Homo sapiens: one gene and its partners. The protein of the gene in region 2 interacts with the protein of the main gene of each other region in a biochemical or structural test. Each region holds a gene or a part of one and is shown on either strand. Other genes may lie near its edges. The genes, in order: SOS1, GRB2, GAB1 and KIT.

Region 1 (7,026 bases), on a different chromosome or scaffold from region 2:
GAACTGCCTTGACTGCAGTCATATGTCATCCCAACATATTCCACTCAAAGCAGTACAAAGTTCCATTGTTTAAGTTTTTCAAAAGGCAGAGTTTGACTAGAATTTTTTTTTATCAGTTATAATACTATACTATTCTTTTTTTACTCTTACGGTTTTTTCCCAAAATAATCTACTTTTAAAAACCTATAATTAATTATTTCAGCCAGTATCTGCTGCATATCTTATTCCTTGCTAAACACTTACACGTCTTCACTGGGAAAGCTTGCAGTCTTACTGAGAGATTAAAAATAATCATAGTGCAAAGAGATTCACAGTTAAACGCTAAAAATAGTGGTAAAGACATAAATACTGGAGAAGCTTATAGAAAGATGACCTCAGAATGAGCAAGAGTGGTCATGGAAAGCGTTGTGGCAAAGACAGGGCAGAGAAGTGGCCACGTACTTAGTGCTGCCACACATACATTCAAAGCCCTGCTCCACACCTTGCCCTGGCCAGGTCCACCTTTGAGGTGATGACGACAGTTGCTGAGAAAAGAGAAAAGACCACTGGCTCACTACTTGTTTCTGCTGCTATAATAGAGAGGAGAAAATGATGAAATGCTCTTTTTACCTTCCTGTTTGAAGATTGCCTGGTCATAAAAGGGAGTCAGAGGTCTGACTTCTCCATTTCCATCCCTTAGGGGACTCTTTAACAACAAAAAGAATGTATTACAAGTATGTCAAGCTGATAACGCAAGGCTTTTCCTCCTGGAAGATTGCTGTAGGTGATGAGTTTCTAATCCCAAATATATTTGCATTTACCAGGCTTTTGTGAGTTTAAGAAGTTATCTATCATATCTTTTTTTTTTTTTCTATAGAAAAATGCTTGTTTCTATCAAGAATGACTCCTTTATAAACTGGGGAGTATCTTTAAGAGTGGTTTCAACCCTGACTGTATAGTATCATCTGTTGAGGAGCTTAAAAAAAATATGTAGGCCCAGCCCACACTAGACTGGCATTGGTACCTGGTATCAGTATTTTTTAAAAACTTCCCATAGGATTCTAATGTACAGCCAAGATTGAGGACCATTTGTCTGTCATCTGGGATTATGCTTAATAAATTAATACTGTTTTTTAAATTAATTAGATTTCACTTCTAAGTCATTATCAGTAAATTTACTCAGTATCTAACTGACAAGAATTTCTAGCATATATTTCTTGATTAGTGCATGTAAAATTCTAAAAGAATTTCTATAGTATTTTCCAGGCAATAAGACAACTAGTGCCCCAAATTTACCAAATGCATGAGTCTAAGCCTGTGCTATATATAAATATACTCAAAGCCAAGTTTACATCTGTGTACACAAGTGTGCATGCATATGTACAATTAAAGACTATAGTTGTAACAGTCATGAGCTTGTGTTTTGATTTTACTCCTATTCCTGTATTGTATTAAGTGTACTATCATGTTCTTGAGGCATATCTCCAGGAGATATGTTTATTTCTTTTCCAGGAAAAGTGGGACATATATAAGTAGGGTAAACGCTAGAGCTAGATACTCCTTTAATCTCTATTACGTCAGATCTCTGGCTCCCTTTTACAACCAGGCAATCTTCAATTATAGGTGGCTAATAGGGAAGAAAATCATCGGCAGAGCAACAGCTTCATGTAATTTCAGAGTAGAAAAATGAATTTTAATCTTCTGAAAGGTAATATTAGAATTAGCTGGATTGCTACACTTAGGAATCATAGGTTCCAAATAAATATCAGTACATACGGAAATCAGATAATGGGACAGATTATTTGAAATTAGGGCTGCCTAGAAATCTGGAATGTGAGATCACCCTCCTTCTGACCAAATATGCTTGAATAAACTTAATATTCCAAATTATGTGAGGGATTGCCTATTGTGCAAAAAAAAAAAAACGAAATCTGAATTTAAAAAAAATTACCACAGTCTAGTATTATTTTAGTCTCTTGGATGTTATAACGTTATCTGTTCCATCTGTTGTTAATATGAGACACTGTACAAACAAACAACTATATTGATTTAGAATCAGTATAGATCACCTAGCTTTTTGTCTCAATTTTCCTACTTTAATGCTCTTGGGGCTTTCGCTTTTGATTTTCAGTTTTTTCCTTAAAATAATTAATATTGTTGAAATTAGACTTTCTAAATTTAAATTTATCAGAATTTCCTATGTAAAATGAGTCTAGGCACCAAATGTTTAATGACTTTAAAAAAAATGTTTATGACTATAAAAGGAAAAACCCTGTATCAATTTCAAGCTTGTTTTATATCCAAAGTGCTAGTTATTTTGTGATGAGAATATATGCCCCAAGAACATTTTTGAAAGACATATAATTAGTAACTTTTTTATTTTTCAACTTACATAAAATAAACTTATTACTTGTTTCACAAGTTTGAGTTTTCAAAATAATATTTACTAAATGGCATATTTATATACATCCAGCTGAACTTTTTGCTTGAATTGGGTTTCTACATTTTAAAAAGTCTTTCAGTAATATACGATTTTTTTATGAATGTTTTTCATTTAATAATTATGAAATCAAGTAAAGCTAAAAGGAATCTTAAATTCCCAATATGATATCATTTTTTTCTTCTCAAAAGTAAGTAGTAATGAGGTTTTACTATAAACTGTTACAGCATTCTTTAAAACGACAATGACAATAACATTTTCATCATAATACAAATTTTTGCAGATGAGTTGAATATATCAATGAAAGAAAAAAATCTACTTTTTCTTGTTTCCTTTCACAGGCAATGATACCGTCTTTATCCAAGTTACTCTGCCCCATGGCCCAAGTTAGTATATTTGGTTTAAGACTCATAATTCTTGCTTTGGCTTTAAAAATCAAACCAAGTGTAACCTTTCCTGCTAAAACTCTTCTTGGGTCTGGCAGCATTGGTACCTTGCTTGCAACATCCTAGAAGTGAGGCCTTCACTTGTGCTATCTTTAGATCATAAGTGATTTGCTTAAATTTATATATTTCTCATGCTTTTTATAAAACCTTGTTTCTCTCTTAAAAGAACATATTAAATAAGTGGCTTCCACATTTAACCATTTCTTTTTTCCAACTATAGAGTTCTAAGTATATTTTAATGCTCAACTTTGAAAAAAAAAAAAAGGCAAGAGCATGCATGCGCATATGGGAATGCTGGCAGCTACATGCAGTTTCTAAATCACAAAATATACTTAGCCTGATGGCAGGATAGATTATAGACAACTGCTTTTGACTTTAGAAGAACTTTCTTATAATTGTAATTATTCAAAGTATAGCCTAAATACTGATAAACAAAATAAAGTTCCATTTTAATTGTAAGGTAAACTAACAAGTCACTAAATTCCATTATTTTAATTATTTAAGCTAATATTTTTTTGCTGTCCTTTCATACAATTTCAAAATATGTACAATGGAAAATACTAGTTACAAGCTGAATTAACTATATTCTTAAGAAAAAAGGTAGGTGATCAAAATGTTGATCATTTAAATAATATCAGTACACAAAGTACTCTTTTTAAGTTCTATATTTTATAACATGTGACAAAATAAAAAGCTTAATGCTTAAAGGGAAAAAAAACTGCCAACTATAATTTTGAATGATGGTTTAAGTATTTTTTTCACATCTTTTTTTATAGTAGGTATAAACAACTAACTTAAGTGTTGTTTTCCAAAGTGTATTTATATGCCTACCTTATGTTCTTGTTACCATAAATGTCTGTAAGAGAGGTTCTAATTAGTAGCTTTACTTACTTTTTTTGTGCCAGTCCACCAACTTATTCTTAAATCAGATTCACTAGATTTTAGTGTAATTTCTGTTTTCATGGTCAGGGCTGCCTCCGTTGTCTTGAATAGTGCCATCACCGTTAAAATTTTTGGATTTAGAGTATAATGAGCCTCTTTTTGCTTACAGGCAAAGGGGAGCCTATAACTAAACAAAATGAGGAGAGGCCCCTCACCTAGACACTATGATTCTTTCCCTTGCATCCTTTGAGAGAAATGCTAGGGAGAGACATTGGAGAGAGTGGTTAAGAGCACACACTCTACTCCCAGGGACTATCCAGTAAGGTGGGGAAGTTCTATAAATTCTAATAAAGTCAAAGAAAAAAATGAACCCATTATAGAATCTAAAAATTACCATTCCAAAGATTTTCAGTAGCTCACTGTCTCCCAGACATCTGAGAATCAGACTCAATTAAAAATTTCAATAATAGAGTAACCATGGGAATGTTATTTTGTTCAGGCAAAATAACAGAATACCTTAGGCAGCTTTTTTCTAAATATTCTGCTAAAAAATGTCTGCATGCTTTTATGGCAGTTTGCTTTAATGAAATACTATTCGGTATTGGTTTATTGAACAGCTTTTGGTATTTCTACACATTACTTTTAATTATAAGCAATTTCCAGCTAAGACTTTTCAAGGTAAATAAATGAAATAAAATTCCTGTGGACTTTTTCTTAAAAATTTAACATCCCACAGGATCTGCTTCTGTATCATCTATAAGTTTAACCAAAGGCACTGATGAAGTGCCTGTCCCTCCTCCTGTTCCTCCACGAAGACGACCAGAATCTGCCCCAGCAGAATCTTCACCATCTAAGGTAAAGTAAGAAATCTTGTTGTGTAGAAATTGGAATCATTACAGTTCATTATAATAAACGGCTGTCTAGTTTAGTTCTCACTAGGATAAGTTAACATTTCAGAGTATACAGGCTTAATAGTTTAAACAAGGATTACATATAGATTTAGCATGCAGTAATGTTTCTTTCTTCTGAAGGTAGTTTTTTGGTATGCATTCAAGACCCTTGTAAACCTAAGGCTATGGTTATTTTCAGAAAAAAACAAAAGTTTTAATCTGTAAAGTAAGAGGAATTTGGTTTCAAGCAGTTCTTTAAAAGCATACAGAGAAAGTCCTGAAGCTTTGTATGAAGGCACATTATAAGTCAAACTGTATTTTGACATATGCTAAAATTTACTTATCTGAGCCCTTAATAGTAAATCTGACATACTTTTAAATGGAGTTTTCATGAAAATTCTGGGTTTGGAAGAGACCCCAAAGGCTCAAAATAGCTATTATTTCTACTTATTTAATTTTGTTTTTTTCTTTTTGGCCAGCTGTTAAACTTAATTCATTAGTTCTTAAGCTGTCCAGAGTGCAGAGCACCAGGATAAGTCAAGACAAGACACTCTTTGTAGAACTTCATGAATGTTAACATAGTTAACTTAAAATTATAAAATAGGTACTTTATGCTAAATTAGAAATGATCTTAGATTGAGTGATAAGCTAAGCAAGCAGTAGCAAACAAAATTTTGAGGAAAAAAATTTAAGTAAAAACTACGGCAAACTTTTTTTTTCTATGAATTGACAGAACCTCCCATTTAAAACATATGCCAGCCTTGGCAACAGAGCAAGACCTTGACTCTACAAAAAATGAAAAAAATTAGCCAGGCATGGTGGTACATGCCAGTGGTCCTTGCTGCTTGGGATGCTGAGGTCGGGGGATCACTTGAGCCCAGGAAGTTGAGGCTACAGTGAGCCATGATTGCACCACTGCACTCCAGTCTGGGCAATAGAGCAAGGCATTGTCTCAAAAAAAAAAATTTTTTTTTAATTAAAAAGAAAACATATGGCAAAACTCCCTGTTCCACACTTAGCATCCTGCCAATAGCATGTTTGAAAACCCCAACTTAATTCTTATAGTCATGATACTTCATAAATTTATTAATAAATGTGTATTTTATTCTTTTCATTTGTTAGATTATGTCTAAGCATTTGGACAGTCCCCCAGCCATTCCTCCTAGGCAACCCACATCAAAAGCCTATTCACCACGATATTCAATATCAGACCGGACCTCTATCTCAGACCCTCCTGAAAGCCCTCCCTTATTACCACCACGAGAACCTGTGAGGACACCTGATGTTTTCTCAAGCTCACCACTACATCTCCAACCTCCCCCTTTGGGCAAAAAAAGTGACCATGGCAATGCCTTCTTCCCAAACAGCCCTTCCCCCTTTACACCACCTCCTCCTCAAACACCTTCTCCTCACGGCACAAGAAGGCATCTGCCATCACCACCATTGACACAAGAAGTGGACCTTCATTCCATTGCTGGGCCGCCTGTTCCTCCACGACAAAGCACTTCTCAACATATCCCTAAACTCCCTCCAAAAACTTACAAAAGGGAGCACACACACCCATCCATGCACAGAGATGGACCACCACTGTTGGAGAATGCCCATTCTTCCTGAGTTCCTCTGTACTGGGATGTATATTTTCCTAGCCCCAAATCCATTGCTGGCAATGGATGCACTGAATGTGCCAGCACTGAGGAGTTAAAATGAGAACTCCAAACACTAACGACTCTTCTTCAAGATGCAGTATAAGACAATGAATTTTAACCTAGATGTAATTATACAATGGAAATGGTATTCCAGTTTAGAATATGGAAAGACCGACCTAGAGGAATTGGACAACTGATTGCACCTGAAAATCATAAAGGGACTTTTTCTGGCCAATAGGCAGGAGTCCTCTTTTTGTGAAGTGATCTTTTGTGAAGTGATCATTAAAGGGATGGAAAACACAGTCTAGTGTCCAGCAGGCCCACATGACAGTTTTTGTAATTCAAATTATGCACTTTTAAAAAAAAAAACTTAAACAGGGATCTTAATATCTTCCTTTGTTTTCCTTTGCTTTACTCTTCTACTTTAGAATATTTTCTTAAAAATCACTCAAAGGACTGTGAGGAAAGGCTGTGGTACCTGACCTTGTTGAAATCAAGGCCCGGCACTGTACTACAGGCCTGTTTACAGATTATTACGGTGAACTGAATGGGTACCGAGGCTTCACCAAAGAGGTACTTTTTTGTTGTTGTTGTTGTTTTAGGAATAATTGTACCAATTTTAAGAGCATTCCCCCCACCTGTCCCCACACACCCAAACAAAATGTGGTGGTGTTGCCTTCAAAAAAGAGAAGTTTTGTGTCATTAACATGACAGAAGAACTTTTTAAAAAAAAATAACTGTCA
Region 2 (7,024 bases):
AAAAAGATCTCCCAGTGATTTTTATGGATACTAAATTTTAAATAACTGCTATACCATAAGGATGCCTTAACCAGATTTTAAAATTTGCATTCCAGATAATGCACTACAATGTCCTTGCATGAAATGAAAATAATGCATATTGGCCGGGCGCGGTGGCTCACGCCTGTAATCCCAGCACTTTGGGAGGCTGAGGTGAGTGGATCACCTGAAGTCGGGAGTTCCAGACCAGCCTGACCAACATGGAGAAACCCTGTCTCTACTAAAAATACACAATTAGCCAGGCGTGGTGGTGCATGCCTGTGATCCCAGCTACTAGCGAGGCTGAGGCAGAAGAATTGCCCGAACCCAGGAGGTGGAAGTTGTGGTGACCTGAGATCGTGCCACTGCACTCTAGCCTGGGCAACAAGAGCGAGAATCTGTCTCAAAAAAAAAAAAAAAGGAAAAAGAAAATAATGCGTATTCACTTGGCACAACTAGGAAAAAGGCAACTTTGACCAAAAAAAATATATATATATATAAATATATATATATATACAGACTCTCAAAAGCCATTCAGTAATGGTGGAGAGTTCCTCTGAATTAAGCAAGTATTAATTTCTCTCCGGAGGGCATGGTGACTCTCTATTCTGTATTACTTCATTTCTCCAAAATCCATTCCTCTTCTGTTGTATGTGTAACAATTAGAACTCTGATGGACAACATGCAACATGATAACAGCAATTACTGAGAAGAATCTCTAAGTACCATCAACCAGTAGTATTTAAAACCCAGCAAGCCTCTCAAATCTGAATAACTTGCTGACGAAGTAAAGTGCCTCAAACATTTAAACGTTTGAGTTCAGGCCGGGCGCAGTGGCTCATGTCTGTAATCCCAAGGCTGAGATGGGCAGATCACTTGAGGTCAGGAATTCGAGACCAGCCTGGCCAACATGGTGAAACTCTGTCTTTACAAAAATACAAAAATTAGCCAGGTGTGGTGGTGAGCACCTGTAATCCCAGCTACTCGGGAGTGCGAGGCAGGAGAATCGCTTAAACCCAGGAGGTGGAAGCTGCAGTGAGCCGAGATCGCACCACTGCACTCCAGCCTGGGCGACAGAGCGAGACTCCGTCTCAAAAAAATAAAATAAATAAATAAATGCTTGTGTTTAGTAGAAGAAAGCTGATTATAAGAATTAACTCTGGCCGGGCGCGGTGGCTCACGCCTGTAATCCCAACACTTTGGGAGGCCAAGGCGGGTGGATTACCTGAGGTCAAGAGTTCAAGACCAACCTGGGCAACACAGTGAAACCCCATCTCTACTAAAAATACAAAATTCGCTGGACATGGTGGTGGGCGCCTGTGATCCCAGCTACTCGGGAGGCTGAGGCAGGAGAATCGCTTGAACCCAGGAGGCAGAGTTGCAGTGAGCCCATATAGCACCATTGCACTCCAGCCTGGGCAAAAAGAGCAAAACTCTGCCTAAAAAAAAAAAGTCACTGAGCTGACCCAATCTTCCTATTATAAAGACATACTAGAAGAAAACATAAGCAGGCACAGAAGCATAATCTTAAAAGAAAAAGAGTAAAAGACAAAAATAATACAAGCAAACCACACTTGCGACCTAGTGGCAGGACTGATTTCTTAGGGATGAATTCAATCTTTTGAGCCTCCCCGTTCTCAGAGAGGGGACTTCAGCCTCCCACGGCTCTCTAGCAACCCTTCTGGCTGACTGCAGGGAACGCAGGGGACGCGCAAAAGTAAAGGAACGAAAGCAAGGAAAGAGAGTCTCTTCCCGAGGAAAAAGACGGAATCTTGAAATGAGAGAAAACGAACAGCACGAAAGGGAAGAAACCTCGAAAAATTACGCCAGAGTGGGGACTACAAGGAGGAAGGGGAAGTACATTAGAAAAAAAGGGGGGGGTGGGGGGAGGAAGGGGCAAATGACTTGCATTACACAAGCATTTCGTGTCCCTAGTGGAAAGGACAGAAGCAGATAGAGAAGGAAGGAAATAACTGGAGAAAGAGGAGTAAGAAAGCCAAAATAGACTAATGCTAATTTCTCTCATGTGTCTGACATTTCGGAAAGTCAACAGCATCAAAAAGAGACAGACCTCAAGTGCACTTCAGTCCCCTGCAAACTGCACTTTCACAGCGTTTGAAGCCAGCCTTGAAAAACTTTCTAAACAAGCCATAACTCATGTGTGGCTTACAATCATAGAGAGGGCGCGCTGCAAATGAAAATTACCAGCGCCCGCTCTCGCCGCAATCCTTCCTCGGTGCAGTCCAACCTGCTACTGCTGAATTTTTCTTGACAAATATTTTTCAAATAGTTTTTTTTTTTAAGTGTCAGAATAAAGGTATCTCCCCCGGCTCCAGCAGCAAACGTTCCACCCCAAAGTGGATTCCCGCACAAAATTAAGCCCAAAGACGCCAGGAGATGGTGACGTGGTTGCCGTGCAGGTCGAAGGCACATCAATCACCACAGCTGCAGCCCACACCAGTCCCCCGCCGCCAGGCTCGGGTAGACTGACTCGGTCGGCGTTCGGCCCGCCTGGGCTTCCCGGGCCCCTTCCGTGCAAACCCTCCCGATGAAGGCAGGGGACCTCGCCAGAGAACCCCGACCTCTTCCCCCGGACTGCCCAGAGCCAAGAGCCGGAGGAGGACGGTCCCCAGGAAGGAAGCGCCCCAAAAGGGGAAACGTAGAGTCCGGAGCCCCGGGGATTGCGCTCCACGTCCCAAGCCTCGCCGCCCCGACGCGAACCCCGGGGCCGGTCCCGGTTCCCCCGGGGCCCACTCCCGCTGTAGAGCCAAGAGGAAAAGGCACGAGAGAGGCGCCGAGCGCAGCCTCCCGTACTCACCGTGGCGCAGCTGCTCCGCTCAGCGTCCGGCCCGCCCCTCCACAACGCTGCGAGCGGCCGGCGACCCCAAGGCTGCTCTGCGAGGGCAGCGCTTGCTCCCGCCGCCGTCACCGCCACAGGCACAGACTCTGCCACAGCCGCCGCCGCCGCTGCCGCCGCCCGGTCGCCGAAGCAGCAATACCTCCTGGCTTCCGCTCCCCGTCGGTGTCCCGCGAGAACTTCTCCACGAGGCCCCGCCCCGCCCCCGCGAGACTTCCCCCGGCGGAAAAGGCCCAGAGCGCAAGCGCTCCTCCTCAGCCGGGCCCCTGCGGGTAGGGAACCAGCTAGGTGTCAGGGCGCATGCGCCAGACCTCCCCGCAGCAGGTGGCCTCCGCACGGCTCCGCCCCCGGGTCGCCGTAACCCTCTCGGTGCCAGAGCGGGTAAATGACAGCTTAGCCCTGAAGGACTCTTCCCCCGTCTAATCACTTTATTTTCCTCTTCTACCAAACCTAGGCAGTTGGATGGGTAGGGGCTTGGGGGAGGAAGAGATCTTCCAGAATGAAGCACTCCAAATAGAGGACCAGGTCTTAAAATATTTGAGAATCCGGTCCGTACAAACTCTGCTGTGTTGAATGATTGGTGAGTTTGTTTGCTCATTGATTGAATCACTGCAGAGTTTGTACGGACCGGATTCTCCAATATAGGCCGAACACTGTGCTGGGGATAGAACAGAAATCTTGGCCCTTAAGGAATTCACGGTCTAGGAAGTAGAAGAAAAATAAACAAATAATGCCATAAGTACTGTTATAATTATTTGGAGTTTGCTGAGGAAGCTAAAAAAATGGAGGGGGTACTGCTACACTGCCCATTGCAGAAGAGCCTTCACAGATGTGATGCGGCGATGTCTGATCTGAGTCTTGGAGGATGAGTAGGAATTTGCCAGGCAGAGAAGCCAGAGTAAGGGCATTTCAGGGAAAGGGAATGGCACGTAAGTACAGAGGCTAAGTACAGAGGAACGGAGGCGTGAGAGAGAAAGTCGTGTTCTGTGCAGTGCTAAGTAGTTCAATTCCTGTATGAGGCCGGTGAGTACGGGGGAGTGGCAGAAGATGAGGCTTGGAGAAATAATTCTTATTTTTCAGTTCCCAAAGCTCTTCCAATTAAAGGATAGAACACAACACACCTAGCGTTACTGTGCCTTCTGGAAGCCAACAAAATAGCGCTGAGGTGAGAATAACCAAGCATCTGATTCTATAGAGAAAAGAAGCCCATTGAAACACAGAAAATGAATTGTGCTTTCACCAAGTATTTATTGAGCATCACCTGTGTGCAAGGGGCTCTGCAGGGTCAAAGACCAACCAGATGAAGCCCCTGCTTTCAGTGCTTTGTAATCTAGAGTTGCCTAATCTGTAAGACAAGCAGTTGGCCCCAAGTGCCACTGAACTACACATAGGGATGGCTGAGGAGGGAGCCAGTACTTGGTGCTGAGCTAATCAAGAAGGATTTGGTTTGAACGGCAAAGTGAAAGCAGGGAGGAAAGAGGAAAGAGTAATGGAATCAGCCTTTTGTTTTTTTTTTTTTTTTTTTTTTTTGAGACGGAGTTTTGCTCTTGTTGCCCAGGCTGGAGTGCAATGGTGCGCGATCTTGGCTCACCGCAAGCTCCGCCTCCCGGGTTCAAGGGATTCTCCTGCCTCAGCCTCCCGAGTAGCTGGGATTACAGGCATGTGCCACCACACCCAGCTAATTTTGTATTTCTAGTAGAGATGGGGTTTCTCCATGTTGGTCAGGCTGGTCTCAAACTCCTGACCTCAGGTGATCCGCCCACCTTGGCCTCCCAAAGTGCTGGGATTACAGGCGTGAGCCACCATGCCTGTTTTTTTGGTTTTTTTTTTTTTTTTGAGACTTGCACTGTTGCCCAGGCTGGAGTGGAGTGCAGTGGCATGATTTTGGCTCACTGCAACTTCCGCCTCCTGGGTTCAAGCATTCTCTCACCTCAGCCTCTCAAGTAGCTGAGATTACAGCAGCCTGCCACCACACCCAGCTAATTTTTGTATTTTTAATAGAGACAGGGTTTCGCCATGTTGGCCAGGCTGGTCTCGAACTCCTGACCTCAGGTGATCCACCTGCCTCAGCCTCTCAAAGTGCTGGGATTACAGATGTGAGCCAACACTCCTGGCCATCAACCAATGTTTTTGATTAGTCCAAGCCCCAGTAATTGGGGGGAAGAGTGATGAGAGAGAGGGGCCAAAATGCAAAATGCATGGCTTAGGTGTCATAGTCAAGTGATGGGCAACCTCTGAAGGTTTCTGAGCAGGAGGTGTCTGATATGAGGTGAAAATAAGAAAAGGACCCTCTATTTACCACTTGATGCATACTTAAGTCATAGCGCCTCCACAGGGTGGGTAATATCCCCATTTTACAGACTTGGAAACTAAGCCTTAGAGAGGTTAGTAATTTACCCAAGGAAGCCAAAATATAGTAGACCTAAGATTTGGACTAAGGCCTGTCTTGTTCTAAAATCCTCATTTTTTTCCCGCACTATGCCACTTTGTTCTAAAATAGCAGTCAGAAAAAAATAGAAATGGAAGGGAGGGACTTAGCTGCTAAGCAGAGAGGAAGACATGAGGGAAGAATTGCAGTTTTTTGTTTTGAGTGGGCCTGGATAACAGGGAGAACACAGAAATTTGCCAGTCAAGAGGCATAGCTGACTGGAGGGGGCAGGCACAGAGAACAGGGAAGGGCAGGTGAGGAGATGATTGTAAGGGTGAAGGGAATTTTTCCCTTCCACTCTGACAGTTTGAGTCTGCTGAAATAAACTGGCAATAGATTAACAGGAGAAAGCACATACAAATTTACTGACATGCAGTGTGCATGGTTACCATACAGAATATGAGACTCAGAGAAGAGCCAGGTGGCTGAAGCTTAAAGAGCACCATCTTTGCAGAGGAGAGGGAGATGAGCGGAGGTCAGCAATACTGAAAGGTAGTCAACTATTTTTAGGGAAAAGGAATGAGCCCAAACAATGCCTGGGACAAAGTTCCTCTGAGCTCTGGGAGCTGGAGGTTGTGACAAATTTCAGGAAGGTGAGGTGCAGGACTTCACTGTAAATAAAGGTTGTCTTATTATGCAGATAAAGTCTCCTAAATAATCTCAGCTGTCCTCAGGAGAATAGATGAAAAGTCTGTTTGGATGTGGTGACAACTTTTAGTCTTTTCTCTTCTCTGGTAGTTAATATTTCCTGGTTATTTGACGAGAGTCCTAGGGAGGAAATTTTAAGACAGTCGCATCTATTTTTTTTCTTTTCTTTTCTTTTTTTTTTTTTTGAGATGTAGTTTCACTCTTGTTGTCCAGGCTGGAGTGCAATGGCGTGATCTCAGCTCACCGAAACCTCCACCTCCCAGGTTCAAGTGATGCTCCTGCCTCAGCCTCCAGAGTAGCTGGCATTACAGGCATGCACCACCACGCCCGGCTAATTTTGTATGTTTAGCAGAGATGGGGCTTTTCCCTGTTGGTCAGGCTGGTCTCGAACTCCCGACCTCAGGTGATCCGCCCGCCTTGGCCTCCCAAAGTGCTGGGATCACAGGCGTGAGCCACCACACCTGCTCTTTTTCTTTCTTTCTTTTTTAATGGATCCCTTCACAGATTTGCATGTCTTCTTGCTCAGGGGCTATGCTAATCTCTGTATCATTCCAATTTTAGTATATGTGCTGCCAAAGCAAGTACACAATTGAATTTCTTTTGGTTTCTCAGTCAGCTAAGGGAACTTTCAGACAGCCCCTGCATGCATGTGGGGTGGTGAAACAAGACTTTAAAAAGTCCTTGGTTCTGAGGCAGCTTGTAAGTCCTTCCAATTTCCTTTCATTCAAAAGTGCTCAGAATGCCAGAGGAGCATACTTTGGGGTATCATTCTCTGAGCCCCAACATGATGATGACTCATTTTTGGAAATGCAGAATTCAGCATTCCAGGAGACATGCAGGTGGAAATATTCAGTATGCTGTTGAAAAGCTTGACAAGCTGGACGCAGCGTTCTCTCCCATAATCCCAGCACTTTGGGAGGCTGAGGCAGGTGGATCACTTGAAGTCAGGAGTTTGAGACCAGCCTAGCCAACATGGTGAAACCTCATCTCTACTAAAAATGCAAAAATTAGCCGGGCGTGGTGGCACATGCTTGTAACCCCAGCTACTCGGGAGGCTGAGGCAGGAGAATTGC
Region 3 (7,218 bases), on a different chromosome or scaffold from region 2:
GAAAATCCTAGTTTCTCCCAAGCTATTAGGCACATTCATCCTCCTGTGGAAAACACAATGTAGGCAGCCCACTGTCTCTCTCAAATGTTCCCATAGTTTCAGTCTACATTGAACTTGTTCCTCAGAACAGCCAAAAAATACCCATACCACTCAACTTAGACACACAGTCATATACCACTTTGCACTGTTGGCTTTTTCACATATACTTGTCTCGTGGTCCCAAAGACTCAAAGAGCTACTTAAAGGCAAAGACTAGGTCTTACATTTCTTTAGCACTGTGCACCTGATCCATAGTCCACCTCATTCTTGTATTCTCAACTAATATTCAGAGTCAGGAAAAGTTATAATCTGAAAGGACCTTTATTTTGTTGTTGCTATTTTTGAGACGGAGTCTCACCCTGTCATCCAGGCTGCAGTGCAATGGCACAAACTCTGCTCACTGCAACCTCCACCTCCCAGGTTCAAGCATTTCTCCTGCCTCAGCCTCCCCAGCAGCTGGGATTACAGGCGTACACCACCACGCCCGGCTATTTTTTGTATTTTTAGTAGAGACAGAGTTTCGCCATGTTGGCCAGGCTGGTCTCCTGACCTCAGGTGATCCACTGGCCTCGGCCTCCCAAAGTGCTGGGATTACAGGTGTGAGCCTGAAGGACCTTTAGAGATAACCTAGTCTAAGCTCCACATTTGAAATGAACTAGGTGAGAGTCGTTAACCTTTTACAGTCCAATCAATCAGGCAGATCTGGGTTCAAATGCAGGACTGTTTTCTGTAAAATAGAGATGACACCTACCTCAGAAAACAGTTGTAATGATCAAATTATACTTTCCTTTTTGTTTTTCTTGTTAAGACATAATCTTTTTGGCTGATTTCTTTCCTGGTTAATAGTTCAATTGAATTCTAAGCCCAAGAGGCAGGGCTTTTTTCCTTTTTCCTACTGTATTTTGTGACCTTATGGTTGGTGTCTAATACAGTGCCTGGCGTCTTTTGAGTGAGCCATGAACTAACCATGTGAAAGAATGAATTAAACCTATATTATCACTTTCACGTTCAGCAAATATGTTATTCTTTAATTCCTCCAAGAATCTGTTTTTCCTAAATTGGGCCTTCTCAAAACAAATATATTTATCTCCCTACCCCTTTCTCCCTTCCTTCTCTGTCACATACACACACACACACACACCCCTACCTTTCTCTTTAGAACAGCTGGAAAAAAAAACACTGCCTCGTTCATATTTTTGGAATAAAGTTAGCATTTTTACTAGGATATTCAGGAAAACTGATAGATGGACAGGATTTGGAGGCATTACACATCTCTGGAGAGCTTTCTTATGATTTGTGGCATCGAGTCTTTCAATAAAATTACTTGTCTATAATAAATTCTGGCAGAAAGTAAATCAGAAATTCACTGGTGAGTTGTCAGTGAAGTTAAATACTTCACTCTGTGTACTTCACTCTGTTCTATACAAGCAAACAGTGACTAACAGGATTAACCTGAGCTCTAATACTGGGTGTAGATATTCCTCAACGACAAACGGGTTCCCTTCGTACAGGCATTAAATTTATATTATATTTAAGGGGGCATAAATTTTGCTTTTGCAAACACATTTTACTAGAAAAATATTTGATCCAGATGTCAGCACAAAAGTGTCATTTCTTTCCTTTGCAAGGGAGCAGCAACAAAACAACCAATGGGGAGGAAGAATAAGATCCCAGACCTCTGAAGAGGACACAGGTTTCCACTAAAGCAAGGTTGATACTTTCAAGGAATATTTTTCCTAACAGCTAAAACGGTTTAACACATAGCATCTTGTATCAATTACACAAACACCATTAAAGCCACTCTGGTTCCCTGGGAAAGGACCGCAACTGAAATCCCTTCTGGCTTCAGCTGTCCCCTCCTGCCGAGTTTGACAGCACATCCAAGGCGCCCAAACACCAGCCACTAGGCTCCCCCCCAGCGCCCTCCTCTCGCAGCAAACCGCCAAGGCTCCCGGGCCAAACTCCAAAGTCCCTCAATTCAAAACCGCGAAAATGTGAACCCTGCTAAGCAAACGGCAGGGCGCGTAATAACTTTTCTTTCTTTCCCTTTTGCGCGCGTTCGATATGCTTGTCTCTACTACCAACTCCTCAGCTCCACAGCCCGCTTCCCGCAACCCATCTCGAGGGGCGGAGGAGAGGGAGCGCCCACCAAAGAAAGGGCTAGTGAGCCCTAAAACCTCGGCAGTTTTCCCGGTGCGGGAGCTTTAGCACACATCAGCCCAATAATCAGATGCAGGAATAAAGCAGGAAGAAGGCTCCTCTCTCCATCGCACCCCATCCTTCCTAAGGAAGAAAAAAAGCATGCAGCAGGAGTTTAGCTGGACGTCTAGGTCCTTTTATGGGGCGAACAGGCCCGCAAAGCAGGCTGTCTGGAACCTGGAGGAAGAAAGTTGTCCGGCCAAGTGGATGCCTGGGCGTGAGGGAGTGCAAGGCACCCTGTCCCGAGCCCGCCAGGGGTAGGGGCCAAGGGGAAAGAGACCGGCATTCGTTTAAGAACCAGCCCCGCGCGCGGCCAGCTGCAGCCGCCGGCGAGCCGACTGGGGAGGGGTGTGGACGCCGAGGCCCGCGGAGTGGTGCCCGCAGCTCTACTTACATAACGCTTCAACTTTTTCTCCGGGGGGGACTTGCGGAGCCATCCGGAGCAGACCACTTCACCACCGCTCATGGTGCGCGCGTCTCGGGCTCCGGGCCGGGCAGCTGAGGGGCGGCGGGCGCGCTCCCGACACAGCCGACGCCTGCCGAGCGCGCAGTGGCGAGAACCTAGCTCTCCTGGTCGCGCACCCCGGACGGACTGGGCGGACAGACTCCACGGTGCGCGGGTTCCACGAGTTCGAGTCTCTCCTCTGCAGGCCCACGAACCTGAACAGAACGCGAGCCGGGGCCGCGGGCGCGCCGGCCTCCTTTCAGTGCGCCCGCCTCGCCTCCAGACGTGCCGTCTCGCCAGCTGCCTCAGCAGCGCTCGGACTCAGCGGGACTCTGCCCCGACTCGGTGCCGGAGCTTCTGTCCTTTGCGCTCCGCCCCCTAGGGACAAGACCTCCCCAGAGCGCTTTCCGAAACAGACACAGCGCTGCTCACACACACACACACACACACACACACACACAATGCCCCGCGCGGTGCCCGCTCGCCCGCCCACCCGCCCTCGGTTTCGATGCGCCCGGAGCGATCCTCCTTCCCTCTCCTCGGGGGAGGGTGGGTCACTTCGCGGCGCTCGGTGAACGCCGAGGAAAGGGGAAGCCGCGAGCCGCCTACGGGCAGCGGGCGCGGGGCTGGTCCCGGGTCACAGAGGGAGCCGCAGGGTTGGCAGCGAAGCGCGGGGCGTTTCTGAGCGGCGGGCGCAGGGAGGTCGCAGGTCAAGCCGGAGGGTGGGTCCGCTCTCGCGGCCGCCGAAGAGGGCGGGGAGCAGCAGAGGAACGAGGCGCTTGGCGGCTTGGCTCCTGGGAGGGATCCCGCTGTCCCGTCCCCTCGCGCTCCTCCCCCGCCGCCTCCCCCACCCCGGGGCTCGCGGCAGGTCCTGAGCGGCTCGGCCCCAGATCCCGATCCCTCCCTCCCTCTCCCGGCCGCCGGGCTCCTTCTTCCTCCCTCTCCTCCTCCCCTTCCCACGTTCAGGCCCGGCTCCGGTTTCTGCCCAGACTTTCTCTGAAACTCCGCCGGAGTGCTTCCAGCCAAAACAACAAGGGCCGGGGGAGGAGACGGACGAAGGGAGGGAGCAAGGGAGGGAGGGAGCGCGAGTCCGAGAGGCACCCTGGGATCTGTAGTTCGGGAAGCAGGAGCAGGGTCCTCCGCCGTCCGGCGGCCCCCAATCGGCTCCTCGCCCGGGAAGACCGCAGAGGCCTCGGCTAGGGCAGAGGCACCGGGGCTTGGGCGCGGGGAAGACTGAGGGACATTCGAATGTTCAGTCCGGGGCTTGCCATCTTGACTCAGCCCGGTGCCAGCTCGGAGCTTGTGCTGTGCTCGAGATCAGGAGTTTCGAGGGTTTTCTTTACTTGAGAGCCTGAAAGGCAAAACCGCGGGGAGACCACCATCCTGCCGGTCCCCGCCGCGCGAGATTAAAGGACAGACCAAGAGGGCGCGGGAGCTACCAGCTTGGAGGGGAGGACAGATGGGGACCCAGGGCTGGCCAGGGCTGGTCTCTGGAGCTGTTCTGCCAGAGTGATGGGGGCGCTTGGCGAGGCCAAGGATTTGGTTGGGTCCTATCTCTGAGACATTTTGAAGTCTCACACCCCTTCCATTTGTTGCCTATTCCACTTAACTTTGTATTTGTTTGAAATCTACTGTTCGGATGCTGGACTAGAAGAGGGACACTTGGCCGGGCGCGGTGGCTCACGCCTGTAATCCCAGCACTTTGGGAGGCCGAGGCGGGCGGATCAACTGAGGTCGGGAGTTCAAGACCAGCCTGACCAACATGGAGAAACCCAATCTCTACTAAAAATACAAAAATTAGCCGGGCGTAGTGGCGCGCGCCTATAATCCCAGCTACTCGGGAGGCTGAGACAGGAAAATAGCTTGAACCCGGGAGGCGGAGATTGCGGTGAGCCGAGATCGCGACACTGCGCTCCAGCCTGGGCAACAAGAGCAAAACTCCGTCAAAAAAAAAAAAAAAAAAAAAGAGAGAGAGAGAGAAAGAAGGAAGGAAGGAAATTTACTGGGTACCCTAGTTCTATTTGCCTACTTCCTTGTGTGTTTCACAATTATTATACTGGTCCTGAGTTTAACATGATTCTGTAATAAACATCTTCTCCAATTTATTTGTGAAAAAGCCCCAAAGCCAATTTCAGCAGATAATATAATCAGATAAAAGTGCTAAAAATATGACGACATAAATGAGCATTTCTGGAAAGACATAACTTCAGTCATTTTCTTATTAACACAACATTCATATTCTGAAGCTCCTCTGAGTTTGAAAATGTTAGATGATTGTAATAAGAAATTAGGTGCTGGAGTGGTGACAAGACAAAGATCCCTGCATATATGGAGGTAGTGGCATAGGGTAGTAAGCAAATAAAGAGTCAACAAAACTACAGATTGAGACTCAGTCTCAAAAAAGAAAAATCTGAAAAAGCCTGGTTCCCACTGGGGTTTAGAGACCGTCATCTTTTGGCAGGCACTTAACAGTATCACAAGGGCGGAACTTCTTGCAGATCTGGATGCACTTTTCAGGTCATCAACTGAGTAGTCGTGACCTTGGGTAAATTACACAATGTCTCTGAGTCTCAGTTTCCCGATATGTGAAATGGGAATTGCAACACCGATTTTGCAGAAGTTTAATGAGAAATAGAAATGGTAGTGTTGGCCAGGTGCGGTGGCTCACGCCTGTAATCCTAGCACTTTGGGAGGCCTAGGTGGGTGGATTGCCTGAGCTCAGGAGTTTGAGACCAGACTGGGCAACTCAGTGAAAACCCGTCTCTACTAAAATACAAAAAATTAGCCGTGGCGGCGTGCGCCTGTAGTCCCAGCTACTCGGGAGGCTGAGGCAGGAGAATCGCTTGACCCGGGAGGCGGAGGTTGCAGCGAGCCGAGATCGCGCTACTGCACTTCAGCTTGGGCGACAAAGCGAGATTGTGTCTCTAAAAAAAAAAAAAGAAAAGAAAAGAAAAGAAAAGAAAAGAAAAGAAAAGAAAAGAAAAGAAATGGTAGTGTTGGTCGGTTAGTCGGGCGCGATGGCTCGCGCTTGTATTCCCAGCACTGTGGGAGGTCTAGGTGAGCAGGTCACTTGAGGCCAGGAGTTTGAGACCACCCTGGCCAACGTGGTGAAACCCAGTCTCTACTAAAAACACAAAAATTAGCCGGGTGTGGTGGCACGCGCCTGTAGTCCCAGCTACTCGGGAGGCTGAGGCAGGAGAATCGCTTGAACCCAGGAGGTGGAGGTTGCAGTGAGCCGAGATCGTGCCACTGCACTTCAACTTGGGAGACAGAGCGAGACTGTCTCTGAAAAATAAATAAATAAATAAAAAGGAAAATGGTAGTGTTGGTTGGGCGTGATGGCTTGCACTTGTAATCCCAGCACTTTGGGAGGTCTAGATGAGCAGGTCACCTGAGGCCAGGAGGTCGCGACCATCCTGGCCAACGTGGTGAAAACCCAGTCTCTTCTAAAAACACAAAAATTAGCTGGGTGTGGTGGCGCGTGCCTGTAGTCCCAGCTACTCAGGAGGCTGAGGCACAAGAATCACTTGGACCCGGGACAGGGAGGTTTCAGAGAGCTGACATAGGGCCACTGCACTCCAGCCTGGGTGACTGAGTGAGAGTCTGTCTCGAAAAAAAGGAAAAAAGAAATGGTAGTTTTAAATATCAGGCACATATTAGATATTGTAGGATTTTTGCTGTTTGTTGCTGTATTTCTTAATGTTCTTTCTGAAACATAAACAAGCGTAATTTTTATGGCAGCTAATAAACCAAAGCACTTCTTTTTAAGTATGTGAATATAAATCATGCCACAAATCTTCCAAATGAAAATAAACCATCAAATTTGTTTTCCTCTTCTCCCATAGGCAGCATGTAGCTACATTGAGCCAAAAGTATAATTAGCATTAGTAAGACTAGTATTGTTGAGTAGTTAACTATTGGCTTTAGCAAATTTACCATTTCCTACACTCTTGTTATAAAGTTCTTTGTAAATGGAAAATTGTAATATATCTTGTATTATTTAGCTTTGGGAATTTCCACAAATTTTTTTCTTTATTTCAAATAAGGCATTCAGTTATCTCATTCCTATGTAAAAAATCTTTAAGTGTTTTTCCTATCTTCTACTGAGTTGTTTTAGGCTTGTATTTCTAGAAATTAAATCAGGGTTGAAGAGAAATTGAAGATAGATATGTCTCCATGTATATATTTTAGAAAGGAAATTTGCCTTATTTTTATATGTCATGTTTAGATTATTTGTTAAATCATATTTTATATCTTTATGCCTTAAAAGGCACGCTGGAAAAAGTTATTATATGTTAGTATCTTAAATTTTATTCATACAACGAATATTTATGGGATGCCTATTATATGCCAGTCCCTGAGGACCCAGGATACAGTAGGGGAAAGCCAGACCTGTTCCCACACTCCTCTTTCCTAGAGAAAAGCTTTTGCAGATAATTAACCCCATCATTTTGGCAATACAGTTGATAAATGCTATGGAAGAAAATATAGTGTTGTTTGGGCATATAACAGAGGATGTACCCCCCAGGAGTAGG
Region 4 (7,026 bases), on a different chromosome or scaffold from region 2:
AGACAAGATGAAAGAAAGACAAAGAAGAGCTTCCAAGACGTGTTATGCAGGAGGCAGAGATCGTTAACATATAGTGACTGATGGAGGAAGGTTTAAAAAAAAATCAAGTTGGTTCAGATAAACACCAATAATTTGGATGATTTTCTGAACCATCTGGACCTCTTCAATCTGCAACATTTGGCTGGAGACTCTTCAAGATTTCTAGTACTTCCTGCTTCTGATTAGCATAGAAACACCATGACAACAATCTCCTTCAGAGTGTGCTGGTGGTTCCAATCCCATATGGGATCCCAAAGCACAAAGAACATCACACAGGATTGAACAATTTAGGCCATTATATCAGAAAGTTAAAGGATATATATAGGGCCAAGGTTTCGGAAAGAAGCAAAATGGCTCATTTCTTCATATAATGAGCACATGCCCAGGAGAAACTAACAAAAAGTGGTTTTGTACAGTTTCTACTACCACTTTAAACTACTCAAGTTTATAGGATTAAAAAAAAATAAAAAGTTTCACCTGGGGTTTTAAACTTTAGCCAGAGGTACAGAAAATGGCTTTAAGGGGTAATTGCCCATCAATAATATTTACTGAGGTCTCCTTGAGGACCTGGTGTTAAGAGTTCAGGAGGCAATGTCTTGCCATTGCAAGATGCAGTGGATATAAAGTGCATGAAAAGGATAGGAGAAATCTACCACACAACTGCAGCAATATACAGTATAGGGGACTGGGCAAAATAACCATGACTTCTGTTGGACTGGGTACATCTAGGAAGTCTTCTCAAATGGTGGCCCTTAAGAGCATTTCCAAAGAAAGAATAGGCAAGATATGAGAAGAATTCTTTTCTGGTTGTAAGTCAAACTCAAAGCTCTTTATACATGATTCAAATTCAGAATGGCATCAATGATGAAAGAGATGAGAATAATGTCCAGAATTTTTAAAAAATGTGCTGGAGTAGTTATGTCTTTTAATAGCATGATGAAATAAAAAGGGCAAGAGGCAAGGTATACAGGAATAATCCAGAGGTCGATGGCAAGAAGCCTACATGTGGAGATATGTTCAGAGCTCTTTGTCATTCTGCTAAAGGTTTTAAAGGGACTTTACTGTGGCAACTTGAGAGGCTTTAGCATTTTCCCTATAAACAGTATCTCACTGGAAACATGCATGTAGTACCAAGCTCAATAGTATAAATGGAAATACATGCAGGACAGAACCGTAAGAGAAACAGATATAGAATGCATTCAGTTGCATGGAACTAAAGTGTAGAAGAAAACTGAAAATACATTTTTAAAAAATCAGCAAAAATCTAGGTTTGAATCTTTAAAAACACAATTTAACTTTCTAAACTGTTAATCACATTTAAATGATTTAATAATTTTGATTTCATACCTCAGAGTACCTCAGTTCATTTTTTAAAGAATCAGCCTTGATTGCAAACCCTTATGACCCCATGAACTGCCTGTCAACAGCTAACTATTTATGTAAATCAGTCTTACCAGGAAGACTCCTTTGAATGCAGAAGATTCTTATAAAGTGCAGCTTCTGCATGATCTTCCTGCTTTGAACAAATAAATGAATCACGTTTTCTTCTCAAAAAATTCAAAAGATCACCATAGCAACAATATTCTGTAATGACCAGGGTGGGCCCTAAAAGCACATAAGAAAAGGTTAGAAAGAAGGTGAGATATATAGATTAATTCTGCCTCCCATAAAAATACCCAAGGGTGGTCATGGCCATTAATATTCAGCTTCAGTGGATCAGACTACTTAGTCCCAATACAATCCCATATATTAACACTGCTTATCAAAAAAGCAGCCTTATGTGGAGTAACATAAAACAAGCAAGCCTCTTTTAACCTGAATTTCTAAGTGACATTAGTATTTGGAGCCAAGCATGACTGCTGGTTTTACAGAGAGAAGTTACTGCTTTCAAAGATTCTACTATTATCAAGCTTCCTACGTGAATCCTCTGGTTCACTTCTGTTTACAGCAGGGCTTCACACACTCTCTGTAACGTTATTATGGAAATAATGAAGGCACAAACTGTGGCATAGTGGGAAAATCAGCCACAAGGAGCAGCCAGCTGGGACAAGACTGGAAAGTGAGTGAAAACCTAAAATGACCTGTGTTCTGAGCGCTACTAGTTGAAAAATTTTTTGGTGCTATGAATGTTTAAACTGTAGTTTAGAAGTAACAGGCAACTAATTAACTTGGGTAAGAAATTTTCTCATGAACAATTCATGATGTGGTGAAGCAACATTTATGGGGATTATTGGAAGACATGATATAAGGCTGTCAACTTTATCGTGGATCTCCAGAAACAGCTCATTTTACACATCTTTGTTTCTTTCAACTGAAATACTTTCTGCAAACATCACAGACATCCTTGATGGGAACTTCAACTAAGGCTTCAAATTGGAAACTTATTTTTAGAGAAGTGAAATGTTTGCCTCATTTGGTGTATATTTGAGAACCAGTAGGCTTAGGCGCCTGTTTTAAATTGTAGTATGCAAATTAATATTAACCCTTTCAGTGGCTACATATGATCAAGAAATGTATAAAGCTTACAAGATAACAGAAGCCTTCTGGTCGGGATGAGATATTCAAGAGGCTGATGTCGTTGATGTTACAAATACGACAATAACTAGGGTATGTCCTGGGCTGTTCTACCCCATAATGATAAAATTAAAATCTGCATTCTTAAGAACAATGAGGAAAACAAAATCTAGCAAGAGAGAACAACAGTCTGGGTAAAAAAATCTTCCAAGCAGTTTATAATCTAGCATTGCCAAAATCATATTAAAATGTCATGTTTTGATAACCTGACAGACAATAAAAGGCAGCTTGGACACGGCTTTACCTCCAATGGTGCAGGCTCCAAGTAGATTCACAATATTCATGTGATTACCAAGGTAACTCAGGACTTTGAGTTCAGACATGAGGGCTTCCCGTTCTGTCAAATGGGCACTCGCTAAAATTGGAAACATGCATTTTAGCAAAAAGCACAACTGGCAAACTGATGTCAAGCGCATGCAGTACCATACAGGAACTTACGCTTGAGCATCTTTACAGCGACAGTCATGGCCGCATCTGACTTAATTAAGCCATAAGCAGTTGCCTCAACAACCTTCCCGAAAGCTCCAGCACCCAGGGTTTTCCCTGTAGGAAGGAAGACAACAAGGTAAGTGGTGATGGTGCTGGTGGTGGAATTGAAGGACCATTTGTGCAGTTTCAAAATCAATAAAGGAATTAAAAACAATGTTGTCCAGAGACATTTTCCTACGATGTTCTCTATGGCAAACCTATCAAAAGGGGCGCAATTTCACAGAAAACTCATTGTTTCAGGTGGAACAAAACAAAGGAAGCCACTGGAGTTCCTTAAAGTCACTGTTATGTGTACCCAAAAAGGTGACATGGAAAGCCCCTGTTTCATACTGACCAAAACTCAGCCTGTTTCTGGGAAACTCCCATTTGTGATCATAAGGAAGTTGTGTTGGGTCTATGTAAACATAATTGTTTCCATTTATCTCCTCAACAACCTTCCACTGTACTTCATACATGGGTTTCTGTGGGGAGAAAGGGAAAAATAGATCACCTTTTAATAATTATTGTCTCAGTCATTAGAGCACTCTGGAGAGAGAACAAATAAATGGTTACCTGTAAATATTTGTAGGTCAGAATCATCACAATAATGCACATCATGCCAGCTACGATTACGAAACCAATCAGCAAAGGAGTGAACAGGGTGTGGGGATGGATTTGCTCTACAATGGAAGAGAAATGTGGAATCACAAACTTTGGCAGGATGGGATCTCTACCACAGCCACTCAGTCCCAAACTGACCCCACCTCCCAACTCACAGCCCATGGCAGGATGCAAAGCTATGTGAGTCTCAGAGCTTCACCTTGGTTACATTGTACTCTTGTTATTCAAATGAATCTTTAAAAATATAACTTGAAACCACAATACTGCAGAATAGAAGTTGAGATTTCTGTAGAAAAGGAATAATTTATGCTGTTTTTCAATGAAAAGCAACATCTGAATGCACTTTATACTTCAATCAAATTCCTGCCTTGTACAACTTTAAAAAAAAGAAGCTTCCTTTATGGACGGTTTATATTTTCTTCTTTAAGCTTTCCTGTATTTTCCAAATTTTCTACACTGAGCATGAATGTCTTTCACAACCAAAAAAAAAAAAAACATTTTTAAGGTATTCTTTTCGTTGCCCTGTCTGAAAAACATGGAAGATTCTTCCCCTCACTACTCAAAACCTGAGAAAACACGCCACTTTTTGGCACTAGTCTTTGCCGACTCAAAAAACGAAAACAACAAACAAACAAACAAAACCCCAAGAAGGCCTAAAAAGTAAGTGCCCAGTTTCTTTGTCTTCCCACTTTGTACCAATTCATCAGTTTGCCCAAAAGATCTTTTAACTTGTTAAGAGAGTTAGTCACACATGAATCAAATTTTAAATATTTTAAAGAAATAACTTGCTAACATGACTTCATAAAGGCAGTGTTAACTTTTGGATACAGTGTCTGGCAAAGTGTTAAAATAATTCATTTTAAATAACTGAAATTTTTAATTGAATTTAAATTTTAGATTGTTCTAATTCTGTTTGGGTGTAAGGTAAATATATTCCCCCATTTGCTTTCTCTAGCTCTTTTTAATGGAGACAATTGTAAATATACAACTAATAGAGACACACATACATATAAAATATATAAAGTAGCATGGTTAAAATTGCTCTGGTAAAAGCATATACTTAACAAGCTAGTACAAAATGAAACTTAGTGAGTTTGATGACAGTATGGTGTGATGCATGTATTACCAGAAATGACATGGTCAATGTTGGAATGAACTTAAAATCATGACTGATATGGTAGACAGAGCCTAAACATCCCCTTAAATTGGATTAAAAAGAAATATACCTTTGTTGTTACCTTTAAATGCAAAGTTAAAATAGGCAGAAGTCTTGCCCACATCGTTGTAAGCCTTACATTCAACCGTGCCATTGTGCTTGAATGCACTAGAATCTATAGAACTCTGAACCACTAGCTTTCCAAACGGTGGCCCAGATGAGTTTAGTGTCTGCACATCCACTGGCAGTACAGAAGCAGAGCATCTAAAGGGAAGAAAACAAAAGCCCTGGCTTACTCTAGGAAAATAAATAAATACATAAAACACTTGGGATGTGGCATACTTTTAAAACAAAGTTAGAGGTTCATAATCAACAGAAAATGTCCTTTTACAAGTGTCTAAGAATAAGCACTTTGGTGACCTAGTGAGTGAAAAAAGCACTGGGGAAGAGAAGGCAGAGGAGGCTTCGGAGTCAGATGCGGGTTTGAATCCTGATGAGTTTTTAACCCCCACCAACACTGAGTTTCTACGACTGTAAAACAGGGATAGTAATACCCATTGCAGAGGGTTACTGAAAGGATTGGAAAGGAATTCAATAAAATGGCAGGCATATATGCTGGTACACAGTAGATCCCTAAAATAAACAAGCTTCAAAAGGGTACACGAATGGTTGAAAAGAAATAGCATAGAGGAGGAAAGCATAAAAAATCTTCAAGGGGCCGGGCGCAGTAGCTCACACCTGTAATCTCAGCACTTTAGGAGGCCGAGGTGGGCAGATCACCTGAGGTCAGGAGTTCAAGACCAGACTGGCCAACATGGTGAAACCTCGTCTCTACTAAAAATACAAAAATTAGCTGGGCGTGGTGGCAGGCGCCTGTAATCCCAGCTACTCGGGAGGCTGAGGCAGGAGAATCACTTGAACCCTGGAGGCAGAGGTTGCAGTGAGCCAAGATCACTCCATTGCACTCCAGCCTGGGCAAGAGAGTGAGACTCGGTCTCAACAACAACAACAACAACAAAATCAAGGATGTAGACCAGAAAATAGTCAAAGTGAGGACTGAAGTTTGAGTTCTAAGCAGGAAGGCCTAGTTATACTGCAGGTGGCTGAGACCACCACTGCAAGGGATCCTTTTCATGAGCCAGACCCCGACTTCCCTATTCTAAACACCTAGCTATTCCCTGTTTCCTTTCTTAACACCTACATACATTCATTGTTTATTCCATCTATTATGTGTTTCTACCCACTAGAACAAGCTTATCCAACCTGCAGCCCACATGTGGCCCAGGACGGCTTTGAATGCGACCCAACACAAATTCATGAAGCTTAAAACATTATGAGATTTTTTTGCAATTTTTTTTTTTTTTAGCTCATCAGCTATCGTTAGTGTTACTATATTTTATGTGTGGCCTAAGACAGTCGTCTTCTTCCAGTGTAGCCCAGGGAAGCTAAAAGACTGAACACCCCTGCACTAGAACATAAACTCATAAAGGCAAAAAGACTTGGGTGTGTTCTGTCCATTAGAATAGTGTCTGGTACACACTTGCCACTCCCTGTGTATCTACTGAATGAATGCCTGTAACTACAGGGCTTGCTTCTGCTGTGGCCATTCCTCCCAGGGGCCTTGAACCCTACTTAGTATTCCCCAAAAGAAAACACTCTCCTAAACCCCAGCTGAAAACAGCAATCCGATGTAACCCCTTCCAACTTGTTGTGATAAAGAGGCTTATTCCATGAAAAATAAAATTTCTGCGACCATACTAACTATTCAATTGTGATGTTAACCTGGGCTTTTAAAGCCTGAGCATAAAATAGCAATTGATGGATAAAAACAGCTGTGGTGACCCCATTTTCGTCTTCAGGTAATGCAAAAGGGCAATTTAAGGCTTAAGTGTGGATGGTGAGGGGCAAGCAGCACAGTGCCAGATGTTCTCTGTTCAGGGGCTGGGCACATTATCAAGAAGAAACCCTTTTTAAAAGCGGTCGCTTGCAAATGCCATATGTATGTTGTAATTGTGCGATCATTACTTTTTGGTAACTTGGCAATTAACTACTGAGGTAATTTTTTCATGATAACTACAGTCACATTTCCCACACACATTACCTCCTGTGTATAGAATGGAAATCTAATTACTCTGTCCTGCAAAATTGCTTTATCTACCTGCAGGCTA

The links.
Region 1: the proteins of GRB2 (region 2) and SOS1 form a complex in vitro, tested with the Homo sapiens proteins (15 studies listed by BioGRID and IntAct, with this or other methods).
Region 3: the proteins of GRB2 (region 2) and GAB1 form a complex in vitro, tested with the Homo sapiens proteins (5 studies listed by BioGRID and IntAct, with this or other methods).
Region 4: the proteins of GRB2 (region 2) and KIT form a complex in vitro, tested with the Homo sapiens proteins (5 studies listed by BioGRID and IntAct, with this or other methods).

What each region holds. Positions count from the first base shown.
Region 1 is NC_000002.12:38,985,049-38,992,074, reverse strand, and holds part of SOS1 (son of sevenless homolog 1), read left to right. Parts: intron 1-2,760; coding exon 2,761-2,805; intron 2,806-4,483; coding exon 4,484-4,602; intron 4,603-5,759; coding exon 5,760-6,251; 3' UTR 6,252-6,711; coding exon of another isoform or gene 6,712-6,765; 3' UTR 6,766-7,026.
Region 2 is NC_000017.11:75,402,653-75,409,676, forward strand, and holds the start of GRB2 (growth factor receptor-bound protein 2), read right to left. Parts: upstream 3,027-7,024; 5' UTR 2,837-3,026; intron 1-2,836. UniProt on the Homo sapiens protein: Non-enzymatic adapter protein that plays a pivotal role in precisely regulated signaling cascades from cell surface receptors to cellular responses, including signaling transduction and gene expression.
Region 3 is NC_000004.12:143,332,675-143,339,892, reverse strand, and holds the start of GAB1 (GRB2-associated-binding protein 1), read right to left. Parts: upstream 3,018-7,218; 5' UTR 2,705-3,017; coding exon 2,633-2,704; intron 1-2,632. UniProt on the Homo sapiens protein: Adapter protein that plays a role in intracellular signaling cascades triggered by activated receptor-type kinases. Plays a role in FGFR1 signaling. Probably involved in signaling by the epidermal growth factor receptor (EGFR) and the insulin receptor (INSR).
Region 4 is NC_000004.12:54,723,953-54,730,978, reverse strand, and holds part of KIT (mast/stem cell growth factor receptor Kit isoform 1 precursor), read right to left. Parts: intron 5,123-7,026; coding exon 4,929-5,122; intron 3,762-4,928; coding exon 3,655-3,761; intron 3,564-3,654; coding exon 3,437-3,563; intron 3,157-3,436; coding exon 3,052-3,156; intron 2,969-3,051; coding exon 2,858-2,968; intron 1,645-2,857; coding exon 1,494-1,644; intron 1-1,493. UniProt on the Homo sapiens protein: Tyrosine-protein kinase that acts as a cell-surface receptor for the cytokine KITLG/SCF and plays an essential role in the regulation of cell survival and proliferation, hematopoiesis, stem cell maintenance, gametogenesis, mast cell development, migration and function, and in melanogenesis.